Linked DNA regions of Homo sapiens: region 2 is linked to region 1. Evidence: fine-mapped expression QTL. A gene starts in region 1. The other region holds a variant in brackets. All regions are shown on one strand. Distances are between the middles of the regions.

Region 1 (14,398 bases):
TAGGAGGACTCGGGAGGCAGCCCCCTGCAGCTCGAGGCCAGCCTCCCTGTTTCACGAACTTGCTGGGCCCCCGTGGAGTCCGTGTTCCCAGAGGGTTCAGCCGGCCCCATTGCCCCAGCCACCCCTCCACCCAGGCAGCAGGTCAGAGCTGGTGTCCCAGCAGCAGCTCCAGGGACAGGCCACGGGTCCCTGGGTCTTCACAAGGCCATCGTCAAGGATGAGGGATTTGTCCAGATGGGTGCTGGAGTGTCAGCGTTGAGGGGCTGCTCAACCCACAGGCACCCGGCCCAGCAGGCGAGAGGAGCCTCTCAGTGGTCAGCCCCCATGAGTGTCCAGGGCCTGCCTTTCTTTTCTTTTTTCTTTTTTCTTTTTTTTTTTTTTGAGACAGAGTTTTGCTCTTGTTGCCCAGGCTGGAGTGCAATGGCGCGATCTCGGCTCACCACAACCTCCGCCTCCCAAGTTCAAGTGATTCTCCTGCCTCAGCCTCCTGAGTAGCTGGGATTACAGGCACACGCCACCATGCCCGGCTAATTTTGTATTTTTAGTAGAGATGCGGTTTCTCCATGTTGGTCAGGCTGATCTCGAACTCCCGACCTCAGGTGATCCGCCCACCTCAGCCTCCCAGAGTGCTGGGATTACAGGCGTGAGCCACTGCGCCCGGCCCAGGGCCTGCCCCTCTAGCCCCCGGTTGTCTCCCCGGCAGAGTGGCTGCCAGGTCTTTCTCGGGAGAAAAGGAGAGAGAGGCACCTGGCAGCCAGCAGCTCCCTTTCCCCAGTGGGTCTCACTTCTTTTAAAAATGTTTTTAGAGAATTAAATACCTTTCAAAAATGTATCTCGGACCAAACTTGTTCCCTCGGGGGGCTGGGATGCCTTCCACCCGGAGGCCCCAGCACAGGGACCACCTGCCCAGCCAGACCGCCTCAGCAGGCAGCTCCTGCAGGTCCCGACTCTCTCGGCTCCTCCATGGCCAGTCATTCCCGCCCGTCCCCTGCGCTCTGTGTCTGTAGCTGCTAAGTTGCCGCTGCTGGCTGGTAAGAGAATTCTTCCTGTCCTTCCCCTGGTGTGGCCATGTATTTTGACAAGAAAAGACAAGCAGGAAATTGTCTTTTTCCCCAAGCTTCTTGCCCACGTCAAGGGCAGGCCTGCTCCACCAGCATCTGCCAATGCTTTGTTATCTCGGAGCAATCGCGTGCAGCTAATGGGAGGGGTCTCTGCTGTTGGAGAGGGTGGGATGGGAGGAGTCTCAGAATCAAGATCCAGGCAAGATCAGGGATAAAAAATTGGAAACCCACTTATTTCAAGCCAGGATTGTGATAAGAAGGACTTTGGTGAACAGCCCTAGGGTGAGGCCCACAAGCAGAAGCAATCGGATGGCACCAAAGACAGCACCGGCCCCCAGAACCCTGCAGAGCCTTGAGTAAGCGGGGAAGGCTTGCTGGCCTTCCCAGGCATGAGCATCCTATCCCTGGCCCCAGGGAGGGGGTAGTCTCTGCTCCCACCAGGTCAAGGTTTGGAGGAGGGTGAAGAACTTCGTGCATGAGACAAGGGGCATCAGAACAAGGTCCACCCCCAGCCTCCTCCCCCTAGCACCATCCTTTCCTCCTCCCTGGAGAGTCCTCCAAGGCCCCGGGGAGAACTAAAGCACAGCCACGCTCTTGGCAAGGCACCATGGCAGCAGAGCACGTAGGCGTAAGCACATGCAGTAGAGAGATTTGGTGTAGAGAAATAGAGATTAAGTAGGGCTAAGGCAGCTATAAACGTCATAGTTTTAGATGCATTTTCAGGTGCCAAAGAATTGCCCTTGGCTTTGAGAGCTGGACGGTGAGCTCAGCTGGGGCTGGGAGCCGGTGGCACCGTGTAGTACTGAAGCTTTCCCACACAGGGCCCAGGGGTGGCAGCGCCCCATCCAGGGAAGTCCCCTGGGTGGATCCGCCATTCAAAACTTTCCTGTCCTTTTCCTCCACGCCAGCGGAGATACAGGCTAAGACTCCCTAATGCAGGATTTCCTTTGAGCATCATGTCGGCAAAGATTCCAAAATCTGAAAAATTGAAACACCTCTGGTCCCAAGCATTCTAGATAAAGGGATACACACCCACCTGAAGGCCCCCCCCCCCCGCTTCTCCATCAGCACCTCTAAAGATGATCCCAAGAGCCTTCATCCCTCTCTCCAGGAAGATCTTTTACTGGAGGCCACATGCCTGTGAGAACCAAGCGCTAGACCAGGCGTCTGCCTGGCTGGCTGATGCCGGGTGCGGCTCTCCAAGCCTGTTTCTACCTTTGAACCAGGAAAAGAACATCCACTTCTCTGCCCCGTAAACAGATCCTAGACGCTGAGCACTTTGGGTTTTGTGGGGTGCTGGGCCATCCCTCTGTGGCTGCCTGAGTTGGTCCCATACAGGCATCTCTTCCCTGAAGGCTGACCCGGCCCTGCCCACGGCACGCCTGGGAGCGGCTCCTGCCCAGGCCTATGGCCGGAAACGCCACAGTGGCTCCTCTGGCTGGCATGAACTTCACGATGACACCTGGGTCTCAGTGCAGTTTGTAGGAAAGGAAGGATGCCACGGGGTCAGATCGTGTGTGGGGGAGATTTGGTACAGAAGCGAACACAGGAATGAAGATGGCAGAAACGTCACGTAAGGCGAGGCGTGTGTCTGCTGGCCTCTCGCCTATCGCAGGTCTGAACTGCGCACAGCATAAGGCTGCAGTGCTGAGACTCAGCCCCTCCCCGGGGGGCCACAGCCTGGGCCGTTCACTCTGCACGTGGCAGTCTTGGTTTCTGCACCTTTGAGCAGAATGCTAGACACAGTGGTGGTTTGCCCTCTGCTCAATATCCCTCTAACAAATCACCATGCAAAACATTCCAGCTGGGCACAGCCACCCCACGCCGGGACCCCCACACCGGGACCTCCACTCCCTTCCCTCTGCTGGGTGTGATTTGGCCAATATCCAAAGAGTTCACTTCAGAAAGGGCAGGGTGAGAGGAAGGATATCATGGGGGTCCCTGGGCTGGGCCAGCCCTGGGGCGGACGCCAGAGGGCCCAGCTCCCTCTGGGAAATCCTGCTCGCCCTGCCCCAGCACCCATTCTGAGCCACAGCCAGACTCTGGGAGGGCTGTGCTTGGAGTTTTCCAGCCCTTGGGCCTTAGGAGTTAGCCCTCTGAAAGTTGGTGGCGAGGGCTCACTAGCAGCTGAGGGTTGTTGGCATTAGATAGAGCAGTCCCAGGGAAAAGGCTGCTTGAAGCAATATGGGAAACCCCAGACTGGTCTTTCTGCAACAGCTGAGTCATGCCAGCCTCCCAGAGCTTCTGCAGGGTCACACCCACCCAGCAGCGGGGCTGGGGAATTCCTGGGGTCTACTTGCCTCCGCTCAGTGGGTGGGACTGGTCTTCACCATGGCCGTGATTTCACCATGGGGGTGAACATGATTTTCACCCCCCCAGGCTCTGGTCCTGCATCTCGCCATCTCTCCCCTCTCCTCTAGCAAGACTCTTGCCCTCACAACCCACCGGCCCTTCAAGGCCCAGCGCTTGGGGAAAGCACCTCCTAGGCAGGGAGCCACCCAGCCAGGCACCACCAGCCAGGCCCTTCTCTAGGCTGTCAGGGCAGAGCCCTGGGTCTAGGCAGAGAGGGGAGCTCTGTGGTCGGTGCTGACTTGGCCAGGAGCCACCAGCCCCGGTGCTGTGGCCCTTTGATGTTGGCTGAGAGCTCTGGGCCATCCCTGCAGCCCCAGTTCCTGGGGAACTAACTGCAGGGAGGGCTCTGTGCACCTGGCCTCCTGCCATGTGATGGTGTGTGTTCACTCTGTTTTTCCAACCCAGGTCTCGGGCAGGCGTTTATTGTCGGTTTCTGTCCCAGAGATGAGGGGAATGGGGTGGCCAGGAAGGAGGAAGCCTTCACTCCAGCAATCAGGCCCCCGCCAGTACTGGGGTGGGCTCCAGTTCAGGGGCTTAGGAGGCACCATGGAACGCATGGGCTTATTCCCAGGGGAGCAGAGGCCTTGTGCAGACCTCACCTCCTGCAGTGTGGGGGGATGAGATGCCTGGAGGGGCAGGAGGGAGAAATGGCCCACTTGGTAATAGCCATTACCGCGTGTCAGCCCTGGCCAGCAGGGGACAGGCCACCTCTGCCCCTGCCTCCCCAGCCCTGTCCTCAGGCCAGGAGGACACTGGCCCCTCCACCCCTCATTCCTTCTGCTTCTGAGAGCACCTGAGCTTCAGTGAGAGCACAGCAGCCCGGCCGGGGAATGAGCGGCACCTGGAGACAGCCCACCCTCAAGAAGAGCATGGAAGTGTCTGGGGCGGATGGTAGGGACAGGGGCTTCAGGACAGGGGAAGGCGGTGGGGGCAGCTGGCAGGGAGGGGGTGAAGTTCCAAGGGTGCACTGAGAAGGGGACTGGGGTGGAAGGGGAAAAGGGCAGTGCGTGGCAGCCCCTCTGCTCCTGTCTTTCTCCCCATGCCCCTCGGGAGCCGCCATCCAGCCCCCACTCTGAAGCACCTCCCACAGGGACCCCAGCCACCCCACTCACAGCACACACAGCTGCTAGGAGCCTCCCACCGCACTGCCGGGTAATCACAAGCCACGCTTCCTGAGCGCATGCTGGGTGCCTAAGACCTTGCGTTTCATGTATTCACAGCCCGCCTCTGAGGAATGTACTATCATCTCTTTGATGACAGGAAATTGGGGCCCAAGAAACTTGATCTGGGGCCTCAGGATGCGGGGAGCTGGAGGCCAGCTTTTCTGGGGGCAGCCCCTGGCCAGTTACAGCTCACGAAGCTCGTCAAGGATAGAGCTGAGAAAACAAACTCTGAAGGCTGAGCTCTTAACCACCAAGCTAGAGGCCTCCCGCCCTCCTCTTGACCTCTGCCCTGGGAGGCCTGCCCAGACCCCCGTGCCCACGCACCCTCTGCCCTCCAGATGCACAGATGCTTCTGGTCAGAACCGCACCCTGCTCTTCAGTGCACCAGTGTCCCTTGTAGAGTTCTGTGCCGTGGCTTCTATCCCAAGTCACTCGGGAGTAAGCTACGCGCACTGTCTCCCCATCTTCACCCAGGGATGTGAAGAGCTGGTGACCGCGGAGACGCTGGATGGGACAGCATCAATCTCGGCACTCTTGGGAGGAGAACCTCAGAGGAAAGCCGGGACCCCGTCAGACTGAGCTAGCAATACGCCAGGTCCGGAGCTCCCAGTCTGTTACTGCAGCGAGCCTGCAGAAAGAGTCCGCCATCAGGAAGGTGGTGGACTTCTTTCTCCAGGTGCCGCCACTACTGCTCTGGAGCCGTGGGAATGCTGCAGTCTCCTTCCACAGAGAACGTGCTCTCCAGGTGTGTGGAGTGCCTCAGCCGACAGCCTCGGGCTGCAGCCACAGAGGCCACGTGCTCCAGGCACTGAGCCAGTGGTATGGGGGGTCTGTCCCTTGTTCCTGCAACAGCATCCTTGGCCCTGAGCTGCTGTTGGTGTCGCAGCAGGGCCCTATCAGATCTGCTTCACAGCCGACCAGTTCTCTTCCTCCCTCTCTCCCCTCCCAGGGGTCCGATCCCCATTGTGATCTGAAGGCTGTCCCTGTCCAATCCCGCCCCTTCCTCTTGGGTGTCACCTCCCACCGAGCTTTGTCTCAGCATCTGCTTGCCGGAGGATGGAAACTGACACCTCTGTCCTCTGCTGAGTAATACCAAGACGAAACCCAAAGGACTTTTCTCTTTTGTTTTTTATTTTTATTTTAGAAACGGGGTCTCACTCTGTTGCCCAGGCTAGCCGTGCACTGACACGATCACAACTCACTGCAGCCTCCACCTCCCGGGGTCAAGCCATCCTCCCACCTCAGCCTCCTGAGGAGCTGGGACCACAGGCACACACAAACATGCCTGGCTAATTTTTTATCTTTCTTATTTTTTGTAGAGATGAACATCTCACTGAATTGCCCGGGCTGGTCTTGAACTCCTGGTGGCCCAGTCTGGTCTCGAACTCCCAAAGGACTTTTGAACAAAAACTCTCAAACTCATTGTTCACCATGGAAATGCAAAACCAAAATAGCACCGAGCTATCATTTTATACTATTAGACTGGCAAAGGTTTGGAGGCTAGATCCTGCCCAGTGTTGGTGGGGATGGAGCAGGGCGGCCTGCAAGCCCTGCTGTGGGATTAAAGTGTACCACTGGGGAGACCTCACCACAGGCCCACCTTAGACGGGAGCTCTGTCCCTACAGTTTGGTCCCCAGATATCTCTCTAAAGAAACCCTCATTCGGGCTCAGAGCACCGTGTTTGAGGATATGAATGAGAGTGGCTCGTCATGGCGGCAAGTTGGAGGTCACTGGGGTTCCATGGTTTGGGAGGCAGTTGGGCAAAATGCAGGGCTGCCCACAGTGGGGACCCCATGGCACTGGAGGCACACGCGCAGCAATGTGGAGGGACCCAGCAGATGGAGCCGGGTGGAGAAAACGCGCCAGCTCACATCTCAGTTAAAACACACGTGCACGAGCAACAGCACACTTGCTCGTGAGACTGCCTAGGAGCCAGTCCACGGCGCGGAGAGAGCCGGCAGCGCTGTCTCATTCACTGTCTCAGTCCAGCTTCCAGCCCTGCGCCATCCTTATGCGAGAGTCCCTCAGGTGTGTGGCAACCTCAGCTCTGCACACCCAGCCTTGGACACCCACAGCGCAAACAGGGACCCTCCCAGAGCTGCCCCCAAGCCCTCCCCTGGCCTGTGTGCGGGCGTCTGAGCGGGTGGAGGCCAGCCATGGGCTCTGCTTCCCTGTGAGCCAGGGTCTGGGCTGAGTCTAACCTAGAGGCCCAGGGTGAGCGCCGGGGAGGTCACATCATTCCCGGAGTTTGGAGGGATCCAACACAGCTCCCCTGAAGTTGGCTGTGACTTGGGCCTGTCAGAAGCAGCCTGAGAGGAGGGTCGCAAGTGACCCAGACCTGGGAAGGAGGGAAAGGTTTGAATTTTGCAAAAAAAAAAGATAACTTTGCCCTTTTCGCTTGATCTTGGGGGGACAAGATGGGGGTGACGCCTCCCGAGACCGGGAGAGGAAGGCCACCTGGCGAAGCTGCAGTCCCAGCATTATCTGTATGTTAAATTGATGTTTTAAATCAGAGTTGATATCCAAGTAATTAAAGAATAACTAACAAGCACAGGGACTAGTGAGGGGCTGGGCCAGATTCTCTGCAACCCATATGGCTTCACCTACTTTCCAAACCCCCGGTTCTGTGAGGACCGAAAATGACCATCCCAGACTATTCCAGAAACAGCCTGGGGATTCTGAAAGTTTCCCAGAGCATAGGCAGTGAAAGAGAGAGAAGCTCAGCCCTTCTGGAGGGGACGGGTGGCTCAGAACAGAAGGTGGAAAGGGAGAGAAGCTCAGCCCTTCCAGAGGGGATGGGTGGCTCAGAGCAGAAGGTGGGGATGCAGTTCTGGGGGCGCCATGGCCGAGCACCACAGACCCGGGACTTGCACAACAGAAGCGGGTTTCCTCACAATTCTGAGCCGGAAGGCGGAGATAAATGCGTGGGCACGGCTGGGTTCCCCGGACGCCTCTCTCCCTGGCGCAGAGACGATGTGTTGTTCTCCCCGGGTCCGTTCCTGTGTGGGTGTCCGCGTCCCCATCAGGACACCAGTCAGATAGGAGGAGGGCCATCCAGTGACCTCACTTCACCTTAATCACCTCTGGAAAGTCCCTGTGTCCAAGCACAGTCACGTTCTGAGGTCCTGGGGGTCAGGGCTTCAACTTACGAATTTTGAGAGCATTCAAGTCAGCCCACAACAGTGGACTCTGAAATAATCTTTTAGGAACTGGACTCCTCAAGGACGCTTTAGAAAATGCCGGCCTCGTTCTGTTGCAAAGGGGTAACTGAGGAAGAGGGGCTGAATTTTCACAGGAAGACGAGCCCGGTGGCAGGAAGTGACAGTGAGAAACTGCAGCATAAAGCGGAAGCAAAGGCCGACTGTGACTATGTGGTCGCCAGCTCGCCTTCCCCGTCAAACCTTGCTGGATTTTGTGTTTCATTTTCATTGCCAAAAACATCATTCAGGTCGGGTGCAGTGGTTCATGCCTGTAACCCCAGCACTTTGGGAGGCCGAGGTGGGAGGATTACTTGAGCCCAGGAGTTCAAGACCAGCCTGGGGAACATAGCAAGACCCTGTCCCAAAAAAAAAAAAAAAAAAAAAAAAAAAAGGCCAGGTGTGGTGGCACACGCCTGTAATCCCAGCACTCTGGGAGTCTGAGGCGGGCAGATCACCTGAGGTCAGGAGTTCGAGAACAGCCTGGCCAATATGGTGAAACCCCGTCTCTACTAAAAATACAAAAATTAGCCAGCCAATCATGGTGGTGGGTGCCTGTAATCCCAGCTACTTGGGAGGCTGAGGCTGGAGAATCACTTGAACCCGGGAGGCAGAAGTTGCAGTGAGCGGAAATCACACCATTGCACTCCAGCATGGGTGACACAGCCAGACTCCGTCTAAAAAAAATTTTTAAAAAATTAGCCAGGCGTGGCGGTGCATGCCTGCAGTCCCAGATACTTGGGAGGCTGAGGCAGGAGGATCACTCGAGCCTGGGAGGTCAAGGCTGCAGTGAGCTGTGATCACACCACTGCACTCCAGCATGGGTGACAGAGCTAGATCCTGTTTCAAAAAAAAAAATAAAGTCATCATTCTCTCATGTATGTGTATATTGTTTCATTTGTTAATTAAGGTATAATTTTACATACAGTAAAACTCACCATTCTTCGTGCAGAGTTCTCACAAAAGTGTACAATTGTGTGGCATCCACCACAATCCCTGTATAGAAGAATCCCATCATCCCCGGAATTTCCCTGGACCCTTCCATAGCCCCCCAGTCCGTCACCCCCTGAATTGTTTTCTGGCACCCCGCCCCCCTTTCTTTTTGAAGTGGTTGTTTTGCAGGAAACATCACCCTCTCTCATTTTACAAATACTGCAGACAGATTTTGAAGCCCAAAGCATCATAGAGGCAGCAGATCAGGACAGGGAGGATTGAGGCGGGGAGGCTCTACCCTGACTGTAAGAAGCACTTGAGAGACCTGCAAAAAGCCAACAGGAGAGGCAGAGACTGTGGGGGCCAATTGGTACAGGTCCTGCCCTGCATGACAGGGCCAGTGGCCCCCACAGTGCTGAGGATAAAATCCAACTGCTCATCCAGGCTGCTGGAGCCTCCTGCCTTCAGGCCACCCCACTGGCCTCTTGCCCACTGTGCCCCACTGTCCAAGCTCTCGCCTGCCCTGGGAGGGGCCCCTGCAGCTTCTTGTGCCCAGGTGCACGTCCCTCTCTTTTCCCATCTGGGCGCCTGCTGACATTGTACCATGAATTTGAACACCACCCTGCAGATGACCTGGCCTCAGTCCATGAAGTTTCCCTTTCGTCTTCTGCAGGGCACCGGCCCCTAATGCCATCTGACGGTTTCCCTGCTCACAGGATCTTCCATTTGTTAGCCCCCCAGAGTGCCCAGCCCGAGTGAAGAGCATGCAGGAAACAAGCCCCTGTCCTCGTGGAGGCTACATTCCGAGAGGGGAGGTAGGCAACACACACACAAACGACTCCGTGGTATGTCATGCTGCGATGCTGGCTGTGGAGGAAAATGAAGTGAGGCCTGGTGAAAGCCAGAGGCCATGGGGCTGCCGAGGAGGAACAGGGACAGGGTAGGATTTGCTTAGAGCAGGGCAGGTCGCGTGGGACTCTGCGGGCCACTGAAAGGAACTTGGCTTTTATTCAGAGGATGTTAAAGCGTGAGTGACATCCTCTGACCTTTTATAAAAGAGGCAAGAGTCTAGGGAGCCCGGGTAGAAGTGAGGGCGTCTGGAGGAGCCACAGTGGGCTCAGGGAGTGAGCCCACGCGAGGGCGCAGAGCAACTGGACGCTCCAACAGGGCTGGTGGAAGTGCCGAACGGTGTGCATCACCTTGGAAAGCAGGCAGTTTTTAATACCATGAAGCTCGTCCAGCCCTATGATTCGCATTTCCACTCCTAGGTATCACACTCAAGAGAAGTGAAGACGCCCACAAAGGGCTCTGCAGCAGCACTGCCGGTGAGAGCTGCATCCGGGGATGCATGGACTGGCCTGTCATTCCAGCACCTTGGGAGGCCGAGGTGGGAAGCATCGCTGGAGCCCAGGAGTTCGAGACCAGCCTGAGACCTCCAGAGGTGGAGACCCCCCCCCCACCACCTCCACTAAAAACTGAAAAAGAAATTAGTTGGGTGTGGTGTGCGCCTGTAGTCCCAGCATTATCTATATGTTAAACTGATGTTTTAAATCAGAGTTGATATCCAAATAATTAAAGAATAAACAACAAGCACAGGGACTGGTGAGGGGCTGGGCCAGATTCTCTGCAACCCACATGGCTTCACCCACTTTCCAAACCCCTGGTTCCGTGAGGACCTAGAATGACCACCCCAGACTGTTCCAGAAACAGCCTGGGGATTCTGAATGTTTCCCAGAGAATCATTAGGAATTATCCCAGCGGCGCTGGAGTAAGTGGCCAACTTAAAGTTGGACGACACTGTCTGAAACAGTCGCGTAAGGGGTAAGGGTGGAAAGCCTGGTTCTCACTGCGCTGCCGGCTCCCCGCCCCGCTCCACAGCCCCGCGCCGGCGCGGGCTCCCCGGGTCCCCGCAAGCCGCCGGGGGCGGGCCGGGGCGGGCCGGGGCGGGCCCGGGCGTGGGGGGCCGAAGGAGGAAGCGCGCGGGGCGCCATAAGGAGGAAGCGGGTAGTCGACCGTGTCCGCGCGCCTGGGAGACGCTGCCTCGGCCCGGACGCGCCCGCGCCCCCGCGGCTGGAGGGTGGTGAGTGCACCCGCGCCCCTCCCGGGGTACGCGCCGAGCCCCAGCCCGTGACCCCTGCCTGCCGCCTGCCCCGGCGTGGAGCTCAGGGCCCGCCGCCCGCCCTGGGCCCGACCGCGGTGGGAGCCAGAGGAGGGGAGGCGGGGGGTCAGAGCCCCAGGCCTCAGCAGCGACCTGAGGGCCGGGTCTCTCCCGCCTCCCCTCCGCCCGGGCGCCCTCCTCGGCGCGGCCGGCAGGTCGGTGCTGAGGGTCGGGTCCGCCTCGGAGGCGGGGAAGGCTTTGTTGTGTCCTCTCCACGTGGCCTGGGGATTCAGGGGAGGGGTGCGGGGCGCGGGGAGGGGGAGGGGCCGAGGCCAGCCCCGGAGAGGAGAAAACCCGCGGGCCTGGCCGGGTGCAGGCCACCCTTGCCGGCGGATCGGAATCCCCGCCCACACCGTGGTCTTTCCAGCACCGCAGACACCTGCCGGCTCCTCCCGAGCGGAGCTCAGGGCTGACAAAGCGCGGTCAGAGCGGCCGCTTACTGGGGCTCGCCCGCTCCTTAGAGCACTGGCAATGATGTGCGGATCCTCGCTGCTGCTGCTGGGAAACTGTTGAGTGGCTGAATGACCCCAGGGGACCCTGGGAGAGCTCTGAAGCCCTCAGCCACCAAGTGGCTGGGCTGGCAAGGGTTCATTCATTCATTCAACAAATACGAATGTGCAGCGGTGCTGGGGTCATGATGGCTCGGTGGGCAGCGAGGGGCCGGGCCGGCTGGAGGAGCACAGTGCGGATTCTGTAAGTGGGCTGGGGGCTGGGCCTTCTGCGGCTGGACCGGCCTTCACCTGCAGGCAGGGTTGGGGCAGGTGAGGAGCAGATGGACCCACCCAGAGCTCTTCCACCTTCTCAGGCTTGCACCCCCTTCCTGGAGCCTTATCCACACCCTCAGTCCTCGCTCTCACTGTGGGGGAGCTGCAGAGGATGCGGTTTTTCCACATTCCATCTCCACCCACAGGAGGCTTTGAGATGGGGGGAGCTCTCCTGGGCCTGAATGTGTGCCGTCCTGGGGCCCTGCAGTCCCCTGGGAGTGATGACCGAGACCAGATTCCCTGAGCTGGGGTCTTAAGGGTGTGGGGAGCGCAGAGGGATCCTCTGGCATCAGGAGTTGAGGTAGACAGAGCTCCAGGGAGGCACTGCCGGGAGGACGACCCTGGCCAAGCCTCTGCCTGCGGCCCAGGGTGTGCGTCCCTGCCCCTTCTGCCCCTCTTGCCCAGGGAGGGAAGAGGAAATGCGGGGTCAGCAGTTCGTGGCTGGGGTTTAAAGGCAGGGATCTCCCAGGACGGGCACAGGGAGCATGAGGAAGCAGCTCGTGTCTCTGTTCATGAGATGTGAGAGTGGTGACTGAGACGAGGGGTGCAGAGACCTGCCGTGGCTGGGGCGAGGTGCTGTTAGTGCTTCTGAGGAGGTTGGGCAGGATAGACGGTGGCTGTCAGGTGGTCTCAAGGTTGTGCAGGAGCTTGCCAGAGAGGGAAGCGGGGCATGGCCCCAGGGTGGTATGGGGGATTCTAGGGGGAGGGTGCCTGGGTGGGAAGGGGTGTCGCATGCCCAGCTCAGAGGCCTTGCTTAGGGGTGCTCACAGGCTCGGCTGACGTGAGGATGCTGATCGAAGGAGCTGAGGGTCCCACTCATTTGCAAGGGGGAACTGTCTGCCCAGGAGCCCCAGCAGTGCCCAGGCCCCTGGACTGACAAGGATGGATGAGGGTGATGGAGGCGGATGGACATTTGACACTGGAGCCTGCCTTCCAGGCAGAAGGGCCGTGAGTCATCCTCTCTCCGGTGCCAAGTGGAGGGGCTGAGCAGGTCCTCGACGTGACCGAGGACTGTGCCCGTTTTTTCAGGGGACCCGGAGCGCTGGCTCTGGCTGTCAGCCCATGAGAGACCTCCCTGCAGAGCTGTGGCCTCTGGAAATGCTTCCTGTCGTTGACATCTGGTCACCATTCTCCAGCTGGGGCTGTGGAGGGCAGCACAGGCCTGGAGTGTCCCCGAGAGCAGCTGGGCGTCTGCCCCTGCCCACCCCACAGGGCCTCCCACTCACAGGGCCTAATTAGCAGCTCCATGGCTGCCATACCTGGCGGACCGCCCTCAGCGGCCACATATATCCTTGCCCCAAGCCAATGACAGGTCTGAAGAAGACACTGATGGAGCTGAAGCACAGGACAGAGACAAGCACCTGTGTGCCGGACGCTCACGGAGCACTTGATGTGTGCTGACTGGCTCACATCACGGTGGTCAGACGAGGGTAGCATCCCCATTCTCCAGATGGTGTAACTGAGGCAAGGAGAGGCTAAGTAACTTGTCCAAGGTCACACCCGAGGGAGTTGGACTTCAGGGTCTCAGCTCTGAGCATCAGGCACACTGCCCAGATTCCCCCTCCACATGTCACACCTGTTAGGCCACTGGGGGTAAGGAGCCTTTCTGTGGCCTCGCTCCCCTGTGAGCCCCTGGGAGGGAGGCAGCCCAGATTCCAAGGCAGCGAGTGACGTGTGTGGGAAAGGGGAAGCTTCCGGGGCAGGGGTTCAGAAACCTCGCAGTGGGGTTTTCCCCAAGAGCCACTGCTGGCAGGTTCCTACAGCCCCATCCAGCCCCAACACAGCCTGCCTCTTTTCCTTCCTCTTCCTCCTTTTCTCTTTCTGCCTGCGTTGGTCCAAAATGGGGAAGTTTCACATAAATGGCAAACAGGCCACAAAGCAGCTATTTCTGGAGGTGCTGCTGCCTTGCAGATTGAATTCTTGGTTGGCATTTTAGGTGTTTGTTTTCAGGATCCTTTTCTGTAGAAGAAGCCAACAACTAAGAAAAGGAGGAAGTGGCTTTGGGAGGCTGAGACGGGAGGATTGCTCGAGCCCGGGAGGTCAAGGCTATAGTGAGCTGTGATTGCACCGCCGCACTCCTTGAATCCTATCAGCTTGGCCAGGGTGGGGGTGGGAAGTGGGGTCTTAAAGGGGAAAGACCAGCCGGGCGCGGTGGCTCACGCCTGTAATCCCAGCACTTTGGGAGGCCGAGTTGGGCGGATCATGAGGTCAGGAGATCAAGACCGTCCTGACTAAGACGTTGAAACCCCGTCTCTACTAAAAATACAGAAAATTAGCTGTGCGTGGTGGGGGGCGCCCATAGTCCCAGCTACCTGGGAGGCTGAGGCAGGAGAATGGTGTGAACCCGGGAGGTGGAGCTTGCAGTGAGCCGAGATCGCGCCACTGCACTCCAGCCTGGGGGACAGAGCGAGACTCCGTCTCAAAAAAAAAGTGGGGGAAAGATCACCATCTGGATCATAGACCAGACCTGAAAGGGGGCTGGTCACTTTTAGGTACGTAGAGTAACTGGAAAGACACACTGTCCTAGTGGAAGCCGTGGGTGGCCTCTGTGGCTGCTGTGGCCCCAGGGGAGGAGATACCTGTCTTCTGGGGCTGCGGCTCAGTCTGGCTCCGGGTCCGGATCACCAGGGAACTTTCTGCAGAGCATCCTGCCTGGGCTTTGCCTGGTCTGCATGGGATCCCCCAGCCTGTGGCTCAGCCCGCTTCTATGCTCATAGCCATGCTGGCGCCGGGGGCAGTCCTTGGCTTCCCTCCTCGTTGGCTTAACAA
Region 2 (14,011 bases), 49 kb after region 1:
TGTGAATACCCACCTCACCGCCTGAACGGCCTGTTTTTGCAGTTGCCCCCATGTAGCAAAAAGTAGGATGCACGGATAGGACTTCAGGGGTCTGGAGAACATGTTTTTGCATAAACCCCAGCTTTGCTCTACTGTGGCACAGAGCTCTGGAGCCTGGTTTGTGAATGAGCCTAGCTGATTCTGGCTTTTTCTCCTTTCTTGCTCTAGGGGATGGACTGAACGGACAGTTCCAGAAGTGTGACTGGCTAAAGCTCGATGTGGTCACAGCTGTATAGCTGCTTCCAGTGTAGACGGAGCCCTGGCATGTCAACAGCGTTCCTAGAGAAGACAGGCTGGAAGATAGCTGTGACTTCTATTTTAAAGACAATGTTAAACTTATAACCCACTTTAAAATATCTACATTAATATACTTGAATGAAAATGTCCATTTACACGTATTTGAATGGCCTTCATATCATCCACACATGAATCTGCACATCTGTAAATCTACACACGGTGCCTTTATTTCCACTGTGCAGGTTCCCACTTAAAAATTAAATTGGAAAGCAGGTTTCAAGGAAGTAGAAACAAAATACAATTTTTTTGGTAAAAAAAAATTACTGTTTATTAAAGTACAACCATAGAGGATGGTCTTACAGCAGGCAGTATCCTGTTTGAGGAAAGCAAGAATCAGAGAAGGAACATACCCCTTACAAATGAAAAATTCCACTCAAAATAGGGACTATCTATCTTAATACTAAGGAACCAACAATCTTCCTGTTTAAAAAACCACATGGCACAGAGATTCTGAACTAAAGTGCTGCACTCAAATGATGGGAAGTCCGGCCCCAGTACACAGGGGCTTGACTTTTTCAACTTCGTTTCCTTTGTTGGAGTCAAAAAGAACCACTTGTGGTTCTAAAAGGTGTGAAGGTGATTTAAGGGCCCAGGTCAGCCACTGTTTGTTTACAAAATCAGGTAACTAACTGCATACACTTTTTCTCTTTCCATGACATCAAGACTTTGCTAAAGACATGAAGCCACGGGTGCCAGAAGCTACTGCGATGCCCCGGGAGTTAGCCCCCTGGTAATAGCTGTAAACTTCCAATTTCTAGCCATACGCTCAGCTCATCCATGCCTCAGAAGTGCATCTGGAGAGAACAGGTTTCTAAGCATAAAAGATGAAAGAGCAGTTGGACTTTTTAAAAATTCAGCAAAGTGGTTCCCTCTCTTAGGGACAGTCAAAACCAAGTCACTTAGGTAGTACCAAAATAAATAAGGAAAAGCTTAGCTTTAGAAACAGTGCAACACTGGTCTGCTGTTCCAGTGGTAAGCTATGTCCCAGGAATCAGTTTAAAAGCACGACAGTGGATGCTGGGTCCATATCACACACATTGCTGTGAACAGGAAACTCCTGTGACCACAACATGAGGCCACTGGAGACGCATATGAGTAAGGGCACTGACGGACTCATGATTTCTTCTTACCAGATGCTTTCCTGTTCTTTAAGAGTTTAAAATCATCAGAAAGGAAAAACAAACTCTATATTGTTCAGCATGCAATACATACCACGCTAGGGCTGGCTCAATTGAAAGTGGGCAAAAGCTTACAAATACTAAAAAGAAGTGCTGCCGCGCAGTGTGGAGGCCACTGTTTGGAAATAAATCTTCCTAACACTACGACTTTTCATGTTTTGGAGTGGACTTTTAAAAAAGTTTTCCAACCACAATGGAAACAGGTTGAACCACACTGCGCCTACACATCCATCCATACGTCAGCCATTATAATCAGATTCTCACTGGGGGAGGCATTTTCTTCCCAAAGGAGCTGTATGCAGTCATCACCCGGAACTAATGGGAAAGTGTTCTTAAGCAGCAAGTGACTCTGGACCACCTCTCTCACACACTGACTCTTCCACAGCATCTTCACCTGCTTCTGTTTCACTTGAATTCATACAGTAGGCCACCATTTTATAACAGGTCTTAGTGTAAATTCTTCCAGACCAAGTCTGAGATAGTCTTGGTTGTAAAGCAAGACCGTCACCCCTTCTCCCAAAGCCAACATTATAAAAAGATTCCATTGTCTCAAACACAAATGTTCCAGTCTTGAGCACTTCCCAGCCATGGTGACTCGGGCATATCCTGGCAGTTGGTGGATTTTGCCCTGTAACACAATCCTTGTGGATATGATTCAAAGGTGACTTTAATTCAGAGAATGTGTTTTCCTTTCTGTTTTAAAAATATTTGAATTAAGTGATGGAAATTCTTTTGTTAAACATCAAAAGCTTTCTCCTTGAAAAGATGCTTGGTGTATCTGAAAGTCACGTGGGACATTTGGTGCATTCAGAAGGTCAAATCATTCCTGACCTCTCCTCTTAGGACCCAGCATTAACTGCTGCGATACTCAAGGCTTCCTTAAAGGATCACAGCACTGGCGCCTAGTTTTACTGTCCAGCAACTTTATTAGTTGTGCTAGCTGAGAATTGGAATATAGAGTCCTTTGAATGTTACGATCTTGTTTTCAAAACCTGGAGTCAAACCAATTAAGTATGGACTTAACAAAGACAATTGATGATGTGAAATGATACCACCTGTCAAGGGCATAGTTACCATGTGGATAGAAAGATGAGTCCACTGATTATCTTCAAATCCCATGTATTCTCTCTAGCACGTTGCTTCTGACAGAAAGAATAACTCACAGATTTGAAGTTTGTTCCTTTCCCCTGATGAAGAGTAGATTGGCCAAAAGGTAGATGACAGGAAGGAAGAGGAGCCAGAATGACCCACAGTGATCAGTTCAGCAGTGCAGAGCGGCAGTGCAGAGGCTCATGGAACTCACACGGAAAAAGGAAACACATGCTGCTTAAAATGCACGATAACTTAATTATCCAAATTACCATTCAATTCCGGTATTTTTGAGATGAAAGCATTTGAGCCAACACTAAATTGACCTTAATTAAGGAATGAGGTAGGAAGAGGCACTTTTAATCTGGAGGAAGAAATAAATGGAAGACTGTAATAGGAAAAATACAGGTCTAGGAAAAAAATAATTTTTTTCCTTTGATGCTGGCCAAGGACCCCTCTACATAATACAGTTCTCCTGCTGGAAAGCATCAGGGCAAACAGAGTTATTCCAAACTCTGCAACAGGGAAGACTGTACTTTGACCTTCTTTTCCTGGGGAAAGGGAACAACTAGTAATCTTTAAATGTCAAAACTTTTCTTCTAAATAGTACATTCATTAACCAGTTTCTTCTGGTGGTGCAAAGAACACTCACCACAGTGAGCAATACCACTATTCAATTTCCCCTTTGGAGAGGTGACAGCGGGGTAGAATCACCTGGAGTCAGCTGCTAGTCTTTAACTGATGACAAGGCCTTGCAAATACCCCTGAGAACAATTTCACTCTGAGCTCACAGGGAAGCAGCAGTCTGGTGTGGGCTCCTGTGGTGTAACCATCAAATGTGGAAGACCTGATGGTGTTAGTGTGTGGGGATGCCGGGCTGAAATTCAACAGCCTTGCAAAAAGAAAGGGAAGATGGGATGTGTTAATATTGTAGTGGCATGCACTTTCCAGCTCTCCATGGAGCTCTCTTTATATATGAGGTAATTGAATGTCACTATTCTGTACCATACAGCAGGTATTATCTAGCCAAGGTTATAATTACCATGAAGTGCTGTGGAATGTAGTAGGAGGCTTTTCACTGGGAAGATCCTCCAGGAGCTGACGTACTTGTGGCCATACCTGGTCAACCCTCCTAAGTCCCCAACCTCTTTGTCTGTCCAGAGGCCAAGCAATGCTTCCAGGTATTCCCCTACTTCACTCCACAGCCCCACCCTTATGATGGCATACACAGGGGAGAAGGGACGAACTCGAACAAACAGAAAAAGACCAAGAAATGCATCGTGGTGCTGTCTTCACCCCCCTCATTTAGCACTTTGTGATAACTGCTGGGACAGATTGCCTAACCTTGTCTA[C/A]AAGCAAAAATATTTAATCAAGAAAGCTAATGAAAGCTCATCGGCAATGACTGTGAATTCTGTAACCACAAAGCATCTCACTCAATGTCTACAGGGAAAACAGCTACATAATTGGAAGCTGAGACCAGTCCTGGACCTAACCCTCACTCTTGTTTTTTTGTAGTAGAACATGCTTAATGTTTAAGTGAGCCTATATGGTGCCTTTGTACAAATTAGAAAAATACTTCGCTTCTCCCAGAGCCCACAGCATGGTGAGCAGAGCACAGGCTGCACGTCGGAATTTGTCCCCAGTCAGTCCTTATGCAGTAAACAACTGGCGCAACTGTTTGCAGGGGACCTGCCAATACTGCTTTGCAGTGCCAGGAAAATGATAAAAACCGGCAAAATCATTGCCTTGCCTCGCCTATGCTTGAGGACGTTAGAAAAACTAACTCTGGGCCGGGCACGGTGGCTCACGCCTGTAATCCCAGCACTTTGGGAGGCCAAGGCGGGTGGATCACGAGGTCAGGAGATCGAGCCCATCCTGGCTAACATAGTAGAGACCCTGTCTCTACTAAAAATACAAAAAAAGCAGCCGGGTATGGTGGCGGGCGCCTGTAGTCCCAGCTACTTGGGAGGCTGAGGCAGGAGAATGGCGTGAGCCCGGGAAGCGGAGCTTGCAGTGAGCCGAGATTGTGCCACTGCACTCCAGCCTGGGCGACAGAGCAAGGCTCTGTCTCAAAAAAAAAAAAAAAAAAAAAAAAGGAAAAAGAAAAACTAACAAACTCTGATTAGGTTCTTCATTCTGTAATATGGGAATAAAAGGAATACAAACAGCTATTAGAACTGTGAAGGTGAAATAAGGTATGTGAGAGCACTAGAACCGTCTCTGGCATGTTATAAATGCTCAACTAGTATTTGCTAAAATATAATTATCGACATGAATTTTTTTTAGGAAAAATTATACACCCTAAACTCAAATGAATGTCATAATTGAGAGATTATCACTAAGGGCAGGTTTTGGTGCACCAGAGAAGAGGAAACATTATTCTGGTATCCAGTATGTCGCTGAGATGTTAAACGAGATAATGCTTGTGTGGGAATTTGGGCAGAAGCTCTAGGTCGTGTCTGTTAGCAATCAGATAGCCTACAAGGCCGTCTTGATGGGTATGATCACCACCTCAAATTCTTGGAAAGATAAGTTTGTGTGGAAAGATGTAAGAAATTAAGAGAAAGGGAAAATTCTTAGCTACAAAACGTTTTATTTCTATAAAACATCTCTTAAAATAATTCAAACACTGAAATGTCCACATCTCATACCTTTCAGGAGAAAGGCAAGGAGACTACTTGCCTTACTGTCATATTATTGAGGGAATCAGCGCAAAGCCTGAGGAAATGAACAGTAGCTGTGGGTCAAAGCCATGTCTCCAGGTTCACGGCTCACTCCCCCAGGACAAGCCTAGTTAGGTAGTGGCTGCATCTGGTATCCCTGGGACAGAAATGCAGGTGAGAAGGGGTATCAAGAATGCCTCGAGGGGGAGATGGGTGAACCAGAAGGTCAACAGTTGCATTTCTTCATCTAGAATGTTCTCTAGAAGGGAATGATGATCATGAGAGTCCCCTTAAGGCACACCGCAGGTACTGACTGATTTCTGTGGGCCCAGAATTATCACTTTAATACAGAGAGGATAAATTGGCGTTGTTTTTTCCCCCCAATAAATCATTACCTTCAACAGAGCAGTTGAGATGAGGTCTAAGGACTAACAAGAACTTTTCTATAAACAAGTTGGATTTATTCTGAATCTTTCCTTCACCTTAGACTTAGAGGGTATAAGTTGGAGGTGGAAGGAATGGCCTCCTACTATCAGCTCCTCCCCCCAAAAGGAGGGGAAGCTTGAGAAATAGTTTTTTAAATGTATGAGCAAAAAGCAGGAGCTGCAGTAGGAAGCAGTCCTCATGAGGGCTGTTCCCTTCCACTGCTGGAGGCAGAGGGTGAGGACGTGAAGGAAGAACAGGGATGCTGCCACATCCTGTTAACTCAGGAGCTGACCAAGAGCTACCAGAGAAAGCCAATGGAAAACACTATCTAGTTCCATTACCGTGAAATACAACTGGCCAAATCACTGTGGAGGAATGTCTAACAGGTGGGAAAATAAAGCAGCAAGTAGCCGCTTCCATACCACATTTCTTCCTTATTCTTTCCTTTCGTGGGCAACACAGGCTCCAATTTCCTAAGCCTCACACCTCCTTTCAGCAGCTCAGAGATGAACCTGGCTTCGATTGGTGCTTGAATGCGCTCAGCCAATGGGTGTGAGGATCCAGAACTGGCAAGTGTTAATACTGGAACTCATAGGATTTATTACTTTTTAAAAATCAAGATAACGCACCAGTTTGCTCTTCACCTATGCAAACACAAATATAGCAATTAGAATACAGAACAATCAATGCAACTATCAGAGCCCATGAAGAAAAAAATCATTGCCTCAATAATCCCATTCCCCCCACTCACCTCTAATTACTTAATCCAAGTACACAAAAACCCTTAAAACATCACTCCCTAAATGGGACACTAAAACACAGAACAAAGACACGCTACAGGATAAAGCTGGAAAGACACACAAACATACTCCCAGACCTTGTTTTGACCAATTTTTAAATATTGCTTTAGGGAGATTTTATTTGAAAACATAAATTTCAAAAAGAAAGCACATTTAAAACATCAGGTTTTGGTGATCAGGGTAGGTAAAGTATTTTTATTATAAATTTCAAGATCTAAAAAATAATTTATTACATTTACTAAGATAAATCTAAGATGACCTTTTTAAACCAAGCCACGTGTGCCCTGCATAGTGACGTCGTGGCCCTCGGGCATGGAAAGACACGGGTCTGCCCTTCCTTTAGGGCTGGAAAGACACGGGTCTACCCTTCCTTTAGGGCTGGAAAGACACGGGTCTACCCTTCCTTTAGGGCTGGGATCAGCCAGAGGAAAGAAAATTATGCCGATGCTCAACTAGCATATACTGATTAGGACTATTTTGGTTTATTACCCTGGCATTGAAGAATTCAGGTGAAGATGCCACCACTCTTGAACTCTGAAAGCCAAACTAGAATCTGCAGAGCAGCCTCAGTCTTAAAATTCAAGCTTCTTTTTCCTACTTTTTATTTCAGTGATATTTAGGACACTCTCTATTTCATAAGAATTATGATCTAACTGGCTCTATAAGCCCAAGAATAAAAATCCTTACCCCCTAGCAAGAGACCCATAGAACTCATCAGTAGTAAGACTAAGGTCCCATATTGGAAAAAATATACTAGCCCAAGGTTATAGACAGGGACCATCCAGCAATAGAGATGTTGCTGGCAAGTAACCATGGTGGTGGGTGACCACTAGCGAAAAGGGCTGAAGAGACCTCAGAAGGTCATCCAGGTTATCCTCCTGCCTTGACACAAGACACATGTGTCTCTCTAGCCAGAGTTACTTGCAGTTGCACTCACAAGTGGGGACCCCAGGTCTCCTTCATGTGATTTTCTCTGTGTACATATTTCGAAGATTCCCAAAGGCAGCATTTTTACAAGGTGGAGCTGCAGGAAGCTTCGGGGACTTGACAGACTGAGTCCAGAGCAAGCCCTCGCCCGTGGGATCTTAGCAGGAACCTGGGGGTGAAGAGGAACAGTGCAGTCCCTGAGAGGCAGCTGAGAGTACGGGCGAGCACCCTCACACTCCAGGATGAGGGCGGGGGGCAAAAAAAGAGTGGGTGCAGAGCCTGCTCATCGAGAAAGATGAAATTCTAAGGGGATTAAGAGCTAAGAAGTCAGTAGCTGAGGAGCCCACAGCTAAGTTCTCTCAGCTGGGAATTTCTATCCCAATTCTTCCTAAGTAAACCCTCTCTCGCTAAAGCAGTGGGTCTCAATAGGGGATGTTCACACGGGACATTTGGCAATGTCTAGAGACATTTTCGTTTGTCATCTCTGGGAGGGGGTGCCACTGGCATCTAGTGGGTGGAGCCCACCACACACAGGACAGCCCCAACACAGAGAATGGTCAGAACAGCACTAGTGCCAAGGCTGAGAAACCCGGTCCTGGAGGGGGTGCTTTACCCCTAAGATTCTCAATTTAGCATGAGCGGAGGCCCTTGGGATTTACAGTCAGATGAATGTGAATGCCCCACCTCAAGCCCTAACATGCCTAACATGCCACTGCCATGTTGAGCAGAAGTCCCCAATTATCCCAGAGTGTTCCACAAATGTCCAGACAGCTGCTGGAGGTTCAAATTCCAGCCAATACAACTCCAACCTTACATCCTTCTGTCTTTCTCTTCTGAAAAGCCTCCTATTTCTTTCTCAGAGCCAGGGCTACCCCGATGGCCACTGCCAGGATGGCAACAGCAGCAGCCCCTCCAAACAGCAGTATAGACTTGCCCTCAGACAGCGGCATGGGCTTCATCTCACCGGCGGGGGACAGTCTAGACTTGCCCTCAGACGGCGGCACGGGCTTCTTCTCGCTGGCAGGGGACAGCTCTTCCACAAGGCTCTCTTCCCTTGCGTTTATCTCCTTCTCACTCAGCAGCGTTTCTGTGGGTTCCAGTGCGGGGACCACCTCCTCCACTTCAGTAGGTTCAGTTGTTGCTGCTTTCACCTCTTCTTCATCAAGTTCTACAAACAGAGATGTAGCAGGGCTGGATTTCTCAACTGTGATCACTTCTGTGTCAGGTTCCCTTGTCCCCAGCAGGGAGGTGGCAGTGATATGTGGAAGCAAGGGAGCTGGGGCTTCAGGAAGTGCCTCTTGCAGCTCCCGCGCTGGCAAGACCACAGAAGCCACAGCAGCCTCTTCCATGCCCTCGGGCACCTCTTCTTTCTCCACGTGCACAATGTCAGAATTAGAGGAGTTGTTCTCACTCTTCTCTCCAGCTCCGTTGCTGTCTAAGCTTTTCACTTCTTCAGGATCCATTGCAATCTGCTGCCAGGACTCAGGGCCTAGTGACACTGGCAGGCTTTCTGTGTGCCAACTCTGGCTAGCTGACAGTGACACAGGTAAGCTCTCAGACTGCCAGGAAGTGGTCACAGTTGGAGACTCTGGGGGACTGACTTGTCCAGAGTTGTCGCTGGGCAGGATGTAAATGTCATTGCTATCTTCTGCAGTGATTCCAGGGTATTCCTCCTCCTCTGACTCAAGACTAAACACAGTGCCCTAGAAACGAAGGACAAGCGTCAATAATAAAGAATGGTAACTATTTAAAACATAAACATCAATCTGGAAAGCAAATTCTTTCCTAAACTGAAGTTCTAGGAATGAAACACTGTTTAAACCTACATAGTTTCCGAATGGAATGCATGTATTTGTAGGCCAATGCAGAGAAAGAATTTTTGACAGTCTTCTGAGCAGTCTCCTTGAAACTAAAAAATCCTAAGTTAATATACATTCAGTGTAATTCACACACAGGCTGAGAGCATCCTAATCTGAAAACCTGAAATCTGAAATGATCCAAAATCTGAGGTTTTTTTTTTTTTTTTTTTAAGATGGAGTCTTGCTCTGTCTCCCAGGCTAGAGTGCAGTGGCACAATCTCAGCTCACTGCAACCTCCGCGTCCCAGGTTCAAGCGATTCTCCTGCTTCGGCCTTCCCAGTAGCTGCAATTATAGGCACCTGCCACCACGCCCAGTTAACTTTTGTATTGTTAGTAGAGATGGGGTTTCACCATGTTGGCCAGGCTGGTCTGGAACTCCTGACCTTCAGTGATCCACCCGCCTTGGCCTCCCAAAAGTGCTGGGATTACAGGCGTGAGCCACTGTGCCCGGCCCAAAATCCGAAACTTTTTGAGTGCTGAAATGACATCACAAGTGGAAAATTCCACACTTGACCTCATGTGGTGGGTTGCAGGCAAAACACAGTCAAAAATCTGCTTCATGCACACAAAATATTATATATATTTATGTTATAAATATTGTATATTTGTAAATTAATATATTAATATTATATAAAATTACCTTCACGCTATATGTATAAGGTGCATACAAAAAGAAGTAAATGTCATGTTTGGGCTTTCCCATCCCCAAGACATCTCATCACATACACACAAACATTCCAAAATCAAAAAAAAAAAAATTAAAATCCAAAACACTTCTGATCCCAAGCACTTTGGATAAGGGATACTCACCCTGTATGTTCAATGCAGTAATTAATGCAAAACAGCAGAGAAAACAAAGGCAAGACCTTGTGCTCAAGGAATTTATCACTTAGTAGGGTATACAAATAATGCTATGTCATAGTCCAAGTGCCATTAAGAGTTCATATGGCAGTGTTGCTTTCCTTAGAAGAAGAAGAAAAAAAGTTCAGATGGGAAAAAGACCTCTTTGGGTAGAGGTCAGAGAAAGCAGGGAGATCACAGAAAGCCTCACGGAGGGACTAGCATTTCTATCAGACATCTGAAGAATGGGTAAGATTTTGGCAGGCGAAGGGTACACAGAAGACACAATGCAGGCAAAAGCACAGAGACAGAAAAAAAAGAAGATAAGGACAGAGCCCTGTTTAATTAATGCAGAGTGCCCATGAAGAATAGAAGGTCAGTGAGGACAGGACCATGGAGGAACCTGAATGACAGCTAAGAAATATGGACTTTATCCAACAGGCGATGGTTTGTCACTGACATCTCTGAGGTACAAAATTATAATCAGAGCTTTGCTTTAAAATTCCTCTGATGGCAGAGACAGAATGGAGAAATGCTGCAGACACGGAGACTCTTGCTTCTTTTGTCAGGAAGTCTGAGTGAAAGCAATAAAGCCCTACAGCACAGGCCTTGTGTCCATGTCTATTAATAACAGGCCACCGTGTGCCTACTGCTTATCAGGGTTGTGTCAGGCACAAGGGCTACGAGAAAGAATGGGTCTATTCTTACAGAATTTACTAGGCAGCTGTGAAGCCTGACATATGAATAACTAACTTCAATATGATACAGAAAGCTTTATGACAGGTGTATGCACAAGGGGCTAGGCCAACCCAGAGGGTAAGGCGCAATAAAAGGACAGGAAGAGAACCAATGGAATGGAATGTCACAGAGATGTACAGAAATTGTCATACAAAGGCTAGACAACACTCGTAAAAGCTACAGGGAATCTGAATGGAATATGTAAAGCAAATTAATTTCTACTTCATTTTATGATTATGGTTGCTATTCAACTGAAGTAGGATAATTTCATTCTTCAACCAAAACCAAAAACTTTCTACATACATCAAGGATCTAACATAAATCAAAAGTCTATCAGCCCCATAAAAAAGGAAATAAGAAATACAAATAAATCACACGACCATGATGTCGGCATCATACTGCACCACTTTCTACCTCGACCCTTGCTCCAGCCACTTCAGAGGCCCTGGTAAGCATCAAGGATGTTCTATGAGTATGGAATAATCAGGGGGTTAAAATAATACAGTATGACCACAAAATTCACAGTCAAAAACAACTGGCTTGTATCCCAGCTCCAACTGTGTACCAGCTGTGCGAATCTGGATACCTTGCTTAAACTTTTAGACTTCAATTTCTTCACAAATAAAATGGGGATGACTGACTAGATAAGATTGTTTTTGTTGTATTTTTAGAGTTGGGGTCTCGCTCTGTCACACAGGCTGAAGTGCAGTGGCAGGATCACAGCTCACTGCAGCCTCAACCTTCTGGTCCCAAGGGATCCTCTAGCCTCAGCCTCCTGAGTAGCTGGGAATAACAGCATGGGCCACTGCACTCAGCTAAGTTTTTTTATTTTTTGTAGAGACGGGTCTCTCTATGTTGCCCAGGCTGGTCTCAAACTCCTGGCTTCAAGCAATTCTCCCACCTCAGTGTCCCAAAGTGCTGAGATTATAGGTGTGAGCCACCACACCTGGACTTGAGTTCATTTTTAAAATGAGGTATAGTTTGTTTTTTGTTTTTTTTTGTTTTTTTTTTGAGACGGAGTCTCACTCTGTCATCAGGCTGGAGTGCAGTGGTGCAATCTTGGCTCACTGCAACCTCCGTCTCCCAGGTTCAAGTGATTCTCCTGCCTCAGCCTCCCGAGTAGCTGGAACTACAGGTGCACGCCACCATGCCCAGCTAATACTTGTATTTTTAGTAGAGACGGGGTTTCACCATGTTGGCCAGGATGGTCTCAATCTCTTGACCTCGTGATCCACCTACCTCGGCCTCCCAAAGTGCTGGGATTACAGGCGTGAGACACCGCGCCCGGCCCGAGGTATAGTATTTATAGTGCTTAGATTAGTACTTTGTACATAGGAAGTAATCAGTAAGTTATGCTATTTCATAACTTGCTATTGTTTGTGTTGTCATTTTAATTGTTGTTTTTGGTGGTATGGTGGTAGGACAAAGAGCTATTCTAAAATACCAACTGGATGGGACAATAAGGAAGTGAAAACAAATGGAAACAATACCCTCCCTTGGCTAAAGAAGGTAATTTACAAACTTTTCCTTCCTCCTCCATCTCTTCTAAGCAGAGATAACACAAAACTGTAAAGTAAAATCTGTCTTTAAAAATTACAGTACTGCAGTATACAATTAGGAAAATTGGAGGGCCCATTGGCTTGGAAGAGAGGGCTTCTAGGCCTCCCAGCTTTTGAGGATGACAGCTTGCCCCAGCCTCAGGGTAAGGACCACTGGAATGGTCCAGAAGAGGATGCATTCAGGAGAGGGAGAAAGAGAGAGGGAGAGAGGGAGAGGGACAGATAGAGAGAGACACAGGGAGGGTTTGGTTCAGCTAAGTAAGCAAAGACATGGAGATCCTAACCGGAAGCTGTAATCAGGTCTCAAGCTTACACATTTTGCAAGGATTTTCATTAGCATCATTTTTAATACAGAAGGATTTCAAACAGTCTTCAATACCCTCAGGAAAGTTTAAAAATATATATGGTTCATCCAAACTATTTAACTACTATTAAAAAAGAAGTACATTTTTAAGTCCAATGTGGAAGGAAGCCCATATTGTACAATAACTCTACATAAAAAACTACAAAGTATTATTGAAAGAAATTAAAGATATCCTAAAGGGATATATATATCATGCTCATAGATTGGAAAACTATTGTAAAGATGTCAGCTATTCCCAGATTAACCCTTTGGTTCAATACAATCTCCAATATAAAATCCTACCAGGTTTTTTCTTATGGAAATTGACAACTAATTAATTCTAAAATCTATATAGCAATTTAAAAAGGCCAAGGAATTTAAGCTGATCTTGAAAAACAACAGTTTGAGAGCTGACACTACCAGGTATCTACTCAACCCATTACAAAGGCACACTGATTGTATAAGCATGGTAAGAGCTTAAAAATAGGCAATTAGACCTGGCTGGGCACAGTGGTTCATACCTGTAATCCCAGCACTTTGGGAAGCTGAGGCAGGAGGATCATTTGAGGCCAGGAGTTCAAGACAAGCTTGAGCAACATAGTAAGACATCATCTCTACATACACACACACACACACACACACACACACACACACACACACACCCCTGTAGTCTCATCTACTCAACTCAGGAGGCTGAAATGGGATGATCCCTTGAGCCCAGGAGTTTGAGTCTGCACTGAGCTATGATCGTGCCACTGTAGTCCAGCCTGGATGACAGAGCAAGATCTTGTCTCAATTCCAAAAAAAACAGAGGCAATTAGACCAATTAAATAAAATAGAATCCAGAACTAGATATATAAGGTCACATGATTTGTGGCAAAGATAACTCTGTGGGAAAATGGATGGTATGATCCTATTTACTAAATGCACATATATACATATCTACTTATTTGCATATATTTATACATAATAAAATGTTTATATAAGCAAAACACATGTTTAGAAAAACGTACACCAAACCATTATGAGTTATTTCTAAGGGGCAAGGTAACAAGAAAAGTGTGCATCATAAAAATTTCTTGGCCGGGCGCGGTGGCTCATGCCTGTAATCCCAGCACTTTGGGAGGCCGAGCAGGGCAGATCACGAGGTCAGGAGATCGAGACCATCCTGGCTAACACGGTGAAACCCCGTCTCTACTAAAAACATAAAAAATTAGCCGGGTGTGGTGGCTCACGCCTGTAATCCCAGCACT

What was found. PIP is the estimated chance that this variant, and not a neighbour inherited with it, causes the effect.
Region 2: its variant is fine-mapped to the expression of BID in whole blood (INTERVAL, PIP 0.96).

The regions. Positions count from the first base shown.
Region 1 is chr22:17,770,770-17,785,167 of GRCh38, reverse strand. It overlaps BID (BH3 interacting domain death agonist), which reads left to right and starts at 10,699. Exons shown (of 6, transcript NM_001196.4): 1 at 10,699-10,787. It overlaps LINC00528 (long intergenic non-protein coding RNA 528), which reads right to left and starts at 7,878. Exons shown (of 1, transcript NR_103718.1): 1 at 5,687-7,878. RefSeq lists enhancers at 1-257, 3,164-3,613, 2,975-3,988, 7,364-7,843, 13,231-13,370 and 2 more and silencers at 10,571-10,670, 10,691-10,740, 10,761-10,830, 10,861-11,190.
Region 2 is chr22:17,721,788-17,735,798 of GRCh38, reverse strand. BCL2L13 (BCL2 like 13) reads right to left here. Exons shown (of 7, transcript NM_015367.4): 7 at 4,944-9,122. The coding sequence ends at 8,265. BID (BH3 interacting domain death agonist) reads left to right here. Exons shown (of 6, transcript NM_001196.4): 6 at 208-1,661. The coding sequence ends at 219. Among named protein-coding and RNA genes, the nearest start is that of MIR3198-1, 35 kb to the left of the region's middle. The variant C/A (reference allele first, on the strand shown) is at 3,956.